Linked DNA regions of Homo sapiens. The protein of the gene in region 2 interacts with the protein of the main gene of each other region in a pairwise test. Each region holds a gene or a part of one and is shown on either strand. Other genes may lie near its edges. The genes, in order: SRL, KCNIP3 and TMTC1.

The links.
Region 1: the proteins of KCNIP3 (region 2) and SRL interact in binary tests that used the Homo sapiens proteins (3 or more experiments, as listed by UniProt).
Region 3: the proteins of KCNIP3 (region 2) and TMTC1 interact in binary tests that used the Homo sapiens proteins (3 or more experiments, as listed by UniProt).

The regions. Positions count from the first base shown.
Region 1 is NC_000016.10:4,240,560-4,244,377, forward strand, and holds the start of SRL (sarcalumenin isoform 1 precursor), read right to left. Parts: upstream 1,522-3,818; 5' UTR 1,509-1,521; coding exon 1,448-1,508; exon of another isoform or gene 1,030-1,447; intron 1-1,029.
Region 2 is NC_000002.12:95,307,299-95,311,116, reverse strand, and holds part of KCNIP3 (calsenilin), read right to left. Parts: intron 763-3,818; coding exon 597-762; intron 1-596. UniProt on the Homo sapiens protein: Calcium-dependent transcriptional repressor that binds to the DRE element of genes including PDYN and FOS. Affinity for DNA is reduced upon binding to calcium and enhanced by binding to magnesium. Seems to be involved in nociception.
Region 3 is NC_000012.12:29,782,439-29,786,038, forward strand, and holds the start of TMTC1 (protein O-mannosyl-transferase TMTC1), read right to left. Parts: upstream 1,505-3,600; 5' UTR 1,314-1,504; coding exon 1,012-1,313; intron 1-1,011. UniProt on the Homo sapiens protein: Transfers mannosyl residues to the hydroxyl group of serine or threonine residues.

The DNA.
Region 1 (3,818 bases), on a different chromosome or scaffold from region 2:
AGCAGAGAGAAGGGACCTTTGCACAAGCACCTGCCTGCGTCCTTTCCCCACGACAAGAGCCCCCAGCGAGGCCTGCAGAACATTCCAGATGACCAGTTCCCTCGGTGGGAGGAAAGATAAAGGATGTCCCTAAAAGGCCAAAAATTCCTGGGGCCCAGTGTGTAGCAGCCCAGCAGCTGGGGCTGGGGGGCAGCACAGGAGCGGCCACGAAGGGAGAGGGTGGCAGCGGCTTGGGGCTCCGGATCCAATTACGCGGCTGTTTCCATACTTAGCCGCCTGACAGCCGCCTGGAATACTCAGCACTCAAGCCGCTGCAGCCCTGCAGAGCCCAAATTAACTCAAGGACAGACAAGGGCAGGGCCCAGCAGCACATGCAGTGGCTGGAGCCCCCCACCTTACATCTTGAGTCCCCGAGAAATAGCTTTTGTTCCCACCCACTGCCTGCTCTCCCTGCAGGGACTGTGCCCCTGCAACCCCCTATTCAACCTCAAAGACCTGAGAGGCTGGACTCTGGGCCTCTCCAGTCCCAGGTACGGACCTAGGCTCAGAGCCCAGCTTGGGGGAAGACTGCCGAGTCATGAAAAGACTCGGTGGGCAGTCCGGATCCTAGGGGGATCCCCGGAGCACCTCCCTAAAAGCATTCCCTCGGGGAACCTGGCCTCAGGAACCTTAGGAACAAGAGAGGTGGCAAAACAATCTGGCATCTCCTCCATAGCCTATAGATAACCCCCATGCTGCAACCCAAGCCACCACCTCTGCTACCCAAAGTGCTGAGATGTCAAAGGGAAGCCTCAGCACACAGAGCCAAGCCCCTTTTCTGATGGAAGCCCCCACCCCGAGCAGAGGCTCTACTCCAGAACGGGCCCCGTTCCTCTTCTGAATTGCATCCAATGCTGTTTCCAGCCCAACCGCCAACTCTATTTCCGATCTTATCCCAAACCAATTCCAATTCTATCTCACTGCTCCCAAAACGGTCCCCACCTTTGCCCACTGTATCCCCTTCTGTCCACGCAAACCCAGTTCTCTTACCCGAGTGGGGCCTCCGCCTTATATCCCACCAGGTGGGAGGGTCACCTCAACGACCTCCAGCTCCCAGACTGTGCTATTTTGTCCGTCTCAGAGGCTCCCCCGTCTCGACTTTGAGGGCCCTCTTTCCCACATCTACTGGCCAGACTCCTCTCTGACCCTGGCTCACAGCTCAGCTCTGTTTGCCGTTCCCACTTCCTCTGGCCTTCCTGAGGGCCCCGCAACTGTGCTGCTATTCTCCAGCACCCAGCTCTTTCTCTGAGGCCCCAGGCCCGGGGAAAAGAGAAGGGTAAGAAGACACCAGCCAAGAGCCAGGGTTTGCCATCAGCCCCGACCCCCTACCCAACCCATGGTAGACAGAAAACCTTGGAGGAAGCGTGGGGGACCAGTCTGGGCTGGGTCATGCTGGGAGGGGCCCTACCTGCTTGTCCTGAGAACAGGAGCGAGGCCAGGAGGCAGCCGAGCAGGACCAGCGCCCTCATGGTGACTGCCAAGAGAGCCCAGCTGCTCCTCGCCTCTATTTATACGGCCGGCCGTGGCAGCAGGCGGTGGAGGGGGGAGAGGGGTCACACAGTCACCAGGGCAACTAGGAGGGTGTGATGGGGAAGAAGCCCGGACCCCAGAAGGCTGTGCAGAGGCTCAGGCTGCGCCACTGCTGTCCCAGCTGCCAGGCCCCAGAAGGCAGGGCCGTGGCTGGATTCTCTTCCCCCGAACCCCTGCAGCCCTGGGATCACATGACATGGGTCACAGGGCGTGGGTGACAGGCATAAAATGGAGCATCCCTTGGGCTCAGGCGGTGGAGCTGGGAAGCTGAGTCTTCCCAGAACTTGCAATAACTTGACCTGAAGTCTCGGCAGGTTAAGGACCTTGACACGCCTGCACTGGAAGGAGGAAGTTGTAAGGCCACGCAAAAGAAATCCTATTTAACAGCCACTGATCCACATGCTAGAGAGTGGTCAGCTACGGCAAACCCGCAACATGTGACCTCTGAGGTCCAAGGCTGCAGCCCTGGAACAACCTTCCCAGCCTCTGGAAGAGAGAGAGCACAGACCAGAGGGAGAGGGGCACACTGAGACACAAGCTGAGGCTACGGTGTAAACTGGAGGATGGAGCAACAGATATCCATTTCCAATGGCCCAGGGGTTCCAGAACATTCAGTCACCTCTGCAAAGTGCTTTTTTGTTTATTTGTTTTTGATAGAGGATCTCGCTCTGTCACCCAGGCTGGACTGCAGTGGCACAATCATCACTCACTGCACTCGACCTCCCAGGCTCAATCAATCCTCCCAACTCAGCCTCCCAAGTAGCTAGGACAGTAGTGCCACCATGCTGTACTAATTTTTTAAAATTTTTTGTAGATGGCCCAGAGAGCCAGTTGTAAGAAGCCAAGGGAAAGCAGACACTTGCTTGTCTGGTCGGGGTACAGTGTCACTGTGTGGGGAAGAGGTAGAAGCCAGCCTTGGAGGAAAGGAACTAAATCAGGGCCAGGCACAGTGGCTCACACCTGTAATCCCAGCACTTTGGGAGGCCGAGGCGGGTGGATCACCTGAGGTCAGGAGATTGAGACCAGCCTGGCCAACATGGTGAAACCCCATCTCCACTAAAAATACAAAAATTACTGGGTGTGGTGGCGGGTGCCTATAATCCCAGCTCCTCAGGAGGCTGAGGCAGGAGAATCACTTGATCCCAGGAGGCGAAGGTTGCCATGAGCCAAGATTGCACCACTGACTCTAGCCTGGGCAACAGAGCGAGACTCTGTCTCAAAAAAAAAAAAAAAAAAAAAAAGAATTAGGCATCTGGTAGGCACTTGACTTTTTTTTTTTTTTTAATCTTTTTTAAGAGACAGGGTCTCTGTCACCCTGGCTGGAGTAGTGACACGATCATAGCTCACTGCAGCCTTGAACTCCTGGGCTCAAGCCACCCTCTCACCTCAACCTCCGAGGGGCTGGGAATACAGGTGTGCACCACATCTGGCTAATTTTTTTGTTTTTTGCAAACATGGTCTTCCTATGTCACTCGGGCTGGTCTCCAACTCCTGGGCTCAAGCAATCTTCCTGTCTCGACCTCCCAAAGCACTACGATTACAGGCATGAGCTACTGCTTTTTCAAAGACAAGGTCTTGGGACTTTTCCTCTTGGAAGTCCCCTCTCTCTCACTAAGGAGCTGTTTTTCTTTCTCTTTCTTTTGCCTGTTAAACCTCTGCTCCTAAACTCCTCATGTGTGTCTGTGTCCTAAATTTTCTTGGCGTGAGACAATGAACCCCAGGTATTTACCCCAAACAATGTAGCTGCTTCATGTTGGGGACCTCATCCGGGATCCCAAGGTACAACACTCATCAAAACGAGTCAAGAAAACTTATTGTGAACTATTTATGGCCTTTAATAATTGAATAAGGTATACTCCTGTGAAGAAAATTTGGAGCATGTTTGTTTCTCTCTGCCTGGTTTCTCTGGAATCTGGAAACTATCTCAACATCTGGTGGAGGCAAACCAGTGTTACAACCCATCAGAATGGCTGACAGTAATCAAACTCTAAATGGTGCTGCAGACAGAACCATGCACGGACATGCCTTTTTTCCGAGGACCCTTAGCTCGACCCCAGGAGGAGCCCTTAGCTTCTGTTCCCCACACAACACCCCTTTTAAGTATGAAGTAGCCAGAAAGAGTCATCATCAAACAACCCCGAAGAGCAGTTAGGGTTACCACTCCAGAGTGGGGAATGATACAGGAGTTAAGAGGAAATTACTTAGATAGTGAGGATACAGAAGTCCTCAGTAAGGTTTTCCTTTTACTG
Region 2 (3,818 bases):
CACCAAATATCACCCATGGCAAGCCCAGGGCAGTGATTTCTGCCCGTTCTCTCGTTAACACACCACCAGAATGCAGCCCAAGGCAAAGAGCCAGCACCAATCCTTGGGGTGCACTGAACAGGACCAAGGAGGGGCTGAGGGTGGGGCCTCCTGATCACCAGGCACTGCACACATTATTTCCCATCTTCAAATGTGCCCTGTGGACAGGTTCCAGCCTGGCTTCTCACGGAAGGCTTAGAAAGGATCAATGAGGTGCCCCGGCTTACTCAGGGCGTGAGCAGTGGGCAGGGTGGAGCCTGGTTTGTTGGACTCTGCAGCCTGGCTCTGTCTTCCTAGCCAACTGGAAAACCGCAGTGTGGTCCCAGCTCTCTGTACCCATGCTCTGTGGGTCCCACTGGGAGCTCAGTGGCCTGTGTGAAGCAGGCACTCAATGAATGGGGAAGGGTGTGAATGAATGAAAACACACCTCCAATAGAGACAGGGGCGATGTAGCCCAGGCTGGGGTCCCAGGCTGGCCTTTGAGCCCTCAGAAAGGACAGTGCTCAGAACAGATCTCCCCACCCCCACCCTTGACCACAGCCCACCCTGGCCCCTACCTGAGCCCTGTGGGGCTGTGCTGGACAGGATCCACTTGACCAGGCAGCATCTCATCAAAGCCTGGCGGCTGAGCCTCGGCCTCTGCCACTTGATACCCTCCTTCTTGCTAAGTGGTGTGTGCCCGAGGTCCCCCAGGAGGCTGCCGTCCGACGCCTTTGTCACTTCCTGCAGTAGGAACAGGCAGAGCAGCCCTGAGCCCCTGCTCAGAGGGGGGACCCCTGGATGGTCCCGAGCTGCCCTGATATCCTAGATGAGGCCAGCCTGAACACAACAGAGGGCTCACCTTCCGGGGCTGCATGCCTAGTGCCCCTTGTCCTGGCCATTCCTGCCAGACCTGGGGAGGTTCCTTTCACTCTACACCCTGGCTATGGTGTAAGATGGGACCCCTGGAAGAGGGGCAGACAGGGGTGCAGAGAGGGGATGTCAGCAGTGATCCCAGACTTACTCATTGGATTCTCCACCTTGGCACAGGCCAGGTTGTCGGAGCTGGACAGCCCCTTAGAAATCACGATCCCAATCCCTCATCTGCCTGAAAACCAGAGAGGCAAGTGGATCTGTACAGGGTCACACAGCCACGTCTGGCTCCCTCACTCCCCCAGCAGGGCCCCTGCTCTGCCTGAGTTTTCATGCTGAGGCAAGCTGAGAATGAATGAAAGGCTGGGTGGTGACCCCAGGAGGGCTGCACTGGTGGAACCGACCACTGAGGCTGGCAGGGATCTGAAGAAACAGCTCCAGCTATGGGCAGGAGAGTCTTGGGAGGAGTGAGTCATGGGTGGTCATTAAGAGGCAGTGGATCAGCCGGGCGTGGTGGTTCACGCCTGTAATCCTAGCACTTTAGGAGGCCGAGGCAGGCGGATCACCTGAGGTCAGGAGTTCGAGACCAGCCTGACCAACATGATGAAACCCTGTCTCTACTAAAAATACAAAAATTAGCCAGACGTGGTGGCATGTGCCTGTAATCCCAGCTACTCAGGAGGTTGAAGCAGGAGAATTGCTTGAGCCCGGGAGACGGAGGTTACAGTGAGCTGAGATCATGCCACTGCACTCCAGCAAGGCCAACAGAGCCAGACTGTCTCAAAAAAAAAAAAAAAGCAGTGGGCCATGTGCCTGAGTCGGTGTGGATCAGAAAACAACCTCCTGGGGTCATGGTGGAGGCCCCAGGGCAGCAGGATTTGCTCTCCTACAACGTATTTCAGGCCCCCCAATCCTGACATCCAAACTGCCCACCATGCTCAGTTCCCATGCTGGCAGCTGGCCCATGAGGCACAGAGGAGGGAGGTGCACCGCAGGCTGCCGCTGGCCACACCTCTGTGCACCTGCTGGGTCTAGTTTGCTGCCTTTGTGCTGTCCTCTCCTGCTCGGGGTGGCAGGGGGACAGGTGTGGTCTGGCCCATTGGACCACAGCCCACCAATGGCCCTCATTTTGTCTGTGACGCACTGCCTGACCTCTAGCTGTGGCAGTGGCACCACCCCCACATGCATATGTGTTCTGAGCAGTTGGGTTCCTTGGCCAGTAAAGAGGGCCACTCAGGGGGTGGGTTGTCCATACCCTTCCCAGGTCACAGGGTCTCGTGTGTGCTACCTTTGCACGGTCCTGAAAAGTATTTGGTTGTTCAAAGTAAATAACAGATGGACGGGGCCGTCAAGCAGCTTCTACAGAGGCAGCCCTGGAAGACAGCCCCTGTGCTAGTTGGACTGTCAGGTGCAAGAGCCAGAGACTGACCCAGGTTGATTTGAACTGGAAGAATTGGCAGCAGGGAGCCCGGGCCAGTCACAGCCTGCAGGGAAGCACAGAGAGCCAGTCCTGGAAAGCAGACGAGATCAGAGAGCAGCGCCGGACACCAGCCCTGGCCATGCCCGTCCACACAGAGCCCAGCGACAGGGCTCTGCTGCTGCTGCAAAGGCTGGCCCCTCTCCCGAGGCATGGGCCTGGCACCCCCACTGGTCTCTGCACACTGCAGGCTCCAGCTGGGGGAGGATTCTCTGGGTGCTTCACTGGCTCATGGTCCCCTGAGGCCTATCCACATTCGGGATGGGCAGCTGGCCCACTAGTCAGTGTTTGATGAAGTGGTCCCCTAGGCAGGGAGATGTCCAGTTCCCTTATCCTGGCTTTTGGGCCTTCCCCAGCTAGGTCCCAACTACCAGTCCTCCAGCTCACAGTCATCATCCACCCTTCCTCCGACACACCCTTGGCAACAACCCCTGCACGTCCCTCCCCTTCTCCAAGGCTCACCAAGCAATGAGGGGGCTCAGTGGTGCCCAGAGCTGCAGCAAGAAGAGGCACTGACCATGCTGATGGAGCAGAAACAGGGGGAGAGCTGGGGGTGGACGGGTGCCTGGGGTGCTGAGGGAAGCTCCCTATGTGCACACGCTATGCACACACACGTGTACAATGCTCACATGCACACACACGCACACACATGCACACAAGTACACATGTTCATATGCACACACAAGCACACATGCATAGGCACACACACGTACACATGCTCATATGCACATGTGCTCACACATACATATGCACACACACGTCCTGTCAGGCTGGGTCAGAAACGCACTTTCTCCATTATTCATGATCTTATTCAGGAGTCTTTATTTTGGTTAAGGAGGGTCGTAGGGGAGAGAGGGGCAGCAGGTGCTTCATTACATCACAAATTCTTTGCTGCAGGCTCTGCGTGGGGGGTGAGCAGAGGACATCAGAAGAAACTGAGGCGGCCTCGGAGCCCCTGGCAGGAGCTCTTCACTGGGACCCCCAGCCCCGTCTGCAGCCCATCTCAGAACAGCACTGGCTTGGCTGGCAAGGCTGCTTCTCGGGGCCCAGGGTTAGTCACAGGGATTCTGTCTTGAAGCCCCAGGCCCAGGTCGTGCGGGAGATCCCATGGGTGTCCTGGGTTCTAGCTCACAGGGCTCAGTCCTCCCGGGAAGGCTGGGTGAGCCCAAAGGGCAGGCTGAGCACCTCCCAAGTGGATGTCTATGTTGAGCTGAAAGTAATCTCGTCACGACAACCCCCTGCAATCGGTAAGACGATCCCCATTTCACAGATGAGGAAACTAATTCCCTGAGAAGTTTTGGGACATGCCAGGGCCACACTACACATATAGTCTTCTGATTCCAAAGTTCACATGGGCTTGACCACAGGCTTTGCTGCTGAGGCTGTTTCTCGGCCTGGGTCCCTGGGGCGGTCTCTGGAGCTGGGTGTGTTCCGAAGCCCCTCAGGCACA
Region 3 (3,600 bases), on a different chromosome or scaffold from region 2:
CACGGGTTCCTATTACACCCGTTGCAAAAAGGCTTAAAACGCCGATAATAGCGCACCAATATTATTTCAACAGTTTTGACCGGCGCGTTAAAATGAACTTCAATGCTGAGCCACATTATAAAGGGTTGAGTCAAGCTCCTGATTGTGTAAGATAGCATTTCCCTTAAATGAGCACTTCTCTTCTTTCCTCAGAAGCTAGGCTTCTTTTCAAATTAAAGAAAATACTCCACCCCTCAAAAACCTGGCATATTCTCGGTTCCCTTTACGCTTATTCACACCAGAAACGCTGAATCATGACTCCGAGGTTGTAAAAGAAAAACTATTTCGGCTGGGGCCCCAGGGTCCCTGGAGAAGCCTAGGCTCTGCGTTACCTCTCTCTGCACCTTCTAAAGTCTAGATCCAGAGAAGTCTGGCAGATTGGAGAGCCTCTGGGAGCAGCCAAGGGTGCAAGGCGGGGGCTGGGGGGCTCGGGAGAGTTTTCTGCTCCCTCTCCTGAACCCACGCAGCCCTGTCAGCTCAAGGCTCCCGCCTCGTCTCATCTGAACGAAACCCTTAAGGGGCTGATACACTTCTCATCTGCAAAGCTGCCCAACAGCCTCCGAGAAATTCTCTACTTGGAAGCATCGCCACCACCGCCACCCCTCCGGAACCCTCTGGGTCCGCGCTAGTCCCACTTGGTCACGATCCGGCAGGCGAAGGGGTGCGGAGGCGGTTTCACCAGCCCGCTCCCAGCCCTGCCTCGAGAGAGAAGCCCGCTGAGAGGGCAGACAGTTGAGAAACTCGATCCCAACTCCCCAGCCGGCGCCTCCCGAACCGCCCCGAGAGCCCAGATTAGCCGGGCAGTGGATCCCGGAGCAAAGTGCCATGCACATCCTGGAGAGGAGGGAGGCGTGGAGGGAAAGGGCGGCAAAAATGAAATGCCCCCAAGTCAGTCCCGCAACTTCTCCCGGTCCGAGGGACGGGCGGAGGGTAGAGGAGGCAGCGGCGGCTAGCGCGAGGTGAGGGACTCACTTGAAGGTGAGGACGCAGAGCGGCCGGTAGGACTTGTGGCTGGTGTTCTCGGCCATGCCCTTGCCCCAGAAGTCGTTGGTGAAGATGCCCCAGCGGAGCGGGGCGCCGGGCCGCACGTCGGGGTTGTTCACGATCGCCCACACGTCGTCGTGCACGAACTCGCCCTGCAGGGAGCGGCCGTAGCACAGGCAGCTTGCCCCGGCCAGCAGCGCCGCGGCCCCGGCCGGCGCTAGCCCGCAGCCCCGCCGCCGGGAGGGTGTGCGGTCCCCGCCGCCGCCTCGGGCAGAGGTGGTCACCACCATCGCGCCGCCGCCGCCGCTGCTGCCCTGGCCTCTCCCGGGCGTCTGGCATCCTCCCCTACCGGGGCCCCGGCGGCGCGCGGCGTCTGCCCGGAGGGGGGCTCGGGCATGGTGCTGCGGCAGCTGGACCCGCCGCGAGCTCCCCGCGCTCCGCCGCCGCCTGCGCCGCGGAGTTGGCCCAGCTGCAAATAAACAGCAGTCCCCCCGCCTCCCCCGGCCATCGCCACCTCCTCCGCCCCACTGCGCATGCCCGCTCGCTCTCTCTTCCACCGCCCCCCAATCCCGGGACGCGGGCCGGTTCCCCCGCACAGCCCGGCGCCCTCTGCCCCCGGCCCGCCTTGCTTGCAGGTGGACCGGGGTTCGCGGCGCGCGGCTGCCCGGGAGCTGCGGGGAAGGACACCCCAGGTTCCCACTTGCGGTGTCCGGCTGTGCTCACCCCCACGCCCCCGCCCCCATCCTTCTCCCCCGAATGGGGCTGGGAAGGGGCACATCTGGCGGACCCCTCCCGGGGGACCCAGGAGGGTTTAGCAGGTGCGCAGTCTGGAACCCCCACACCCACCTTCCAGGGAGAAAAGTGCCGCTGCTTCCCGGGAAGTTCCCGGCTTTTCAGCACCCGGGACAACAGCAGCGGCGCCCGGAGAGACGCTCTCCACCCGCCCCGCGCTCGCGTCCAGTCGCCGGCTCTGTGCTCTCCTGCCCGGGCTTTCTCTCACCCGCCCGGCGCGGCGTCCCGCTTGGCGGAGGAACCCGCGGGGATAGGGAGCACCTTCCTCAAAGCCAGGAGAAGGGGTCTCCCTGGACAAGGACATCCTGCTCGCCCTGCCCGGGTGTGTTCAGAGGCGCCACCGGCTCTTTAACTTTACAGCCCCTTTCTTGGCCCGCACTTACAAAAAGTACCAGGTTCGAGTTTTGGTTTGGGCCTGGGAGCCGAATTGTCTTCTGAAACATTTCTTATTTTATTGTTTGCTCAAGATAATTTGGGAGATGCCAAGCAAACTACTTTTTCTATCTAGCTGGATCACTTGGGTCTCATTATTTCCTGGGCTGTGGGCGTGTTTGAACAGGGCGGGGAAGAAGGTGGGGATGGGGGGATGGGGAGGTGGGGGCGATTTGTATTAGGGCCTCTGGCTTTGGCTCCTAAACTTCCTGTCTTTCTGAAAGATTGTTTTCTTTTTTAAAATACTAATTTTAATAATATGTCCCAGAGTGATGATTACTAGAATTTCTCCAGGTCTGAAAATTCTATTTGTTCTTTCAGGCACCTTCTAAATTTCCATTGCTGAGTGTTAGAAGTTATCAGGAATTTGACACATCCAGATAGAAAAACTGAAAATAAAAAGTCACCCTTTTATTCTCATCCTCCCCAAACCCTTAAAAAGCTCACCGACATAATCCAGAAATTGTTCCTCTGCTATGAGTATTTGTGTGGCTCTTTACTATAACAACTTACTTTTTAAAAAATTTTAAGACATCTGAGCAGTTGAAAAGTCAATGAATTAAGATAAACTTATTGTAACTCAAAGTACGTTTCACCCATTTTCACTTTGTTTATTTGGTGACTTGAAATTAGTGACTGAGAAATGAAACTGGAAGTCCTGGACATGGATGTTTTCATTCTTCCATCAAAATCTTTCACGCTTGGTAACCTTAATATACCGACTTTAATATCTAGACACACCTGAGTCTATTTCCCCGTATAACACACTACAGCCTTTCCTATTCACCTATTAACTTAATAAAAATATATTAAGGAGATTCTTTGTGCTACAATGTGCTAAGTATAGGATTGGAAGACCCAAAGCTGCTCGTGTGTGTGCGTCTGTATGTGTGTGTGGTTAACACCATAAAAGTCTAGCTTTCTAAGTTAACAGCTGATTGGGATAGTGAAATTATCTTTGCTGAAATCATAGTTGAGGTAATAGGTCAATGTATCAATCCTTACCTATAATTAACGGAGGCTTTCTAGAGAGAACGTCTTAACCCAAAAGAGTGACTCTAGGCCAGGTGCAATGGCTCACACCCGCAATCCCAGCACTTTGGGAGGCCAAGGCAGGAGCGTTGCTTGAGGCCAGGAGTTCAAGACTGGCCTGGGCTACAGAGTGAGACCCTGCCTCAAAAAAGAAAAGAAAAGAGTGGCCTCTAATAGTAGATTTTTATAGAAAGAAAGTCTTTTTTCCTTCCTCAAATTATCCTTAAGTCATCCTTTTCCAAGGAAGAGCTCTGGCTACCCCCTTCTTCTCGGAGTTGTTTTCTTTTTTAGATGGAAACAGTATCAGAGTGCTCCATGACC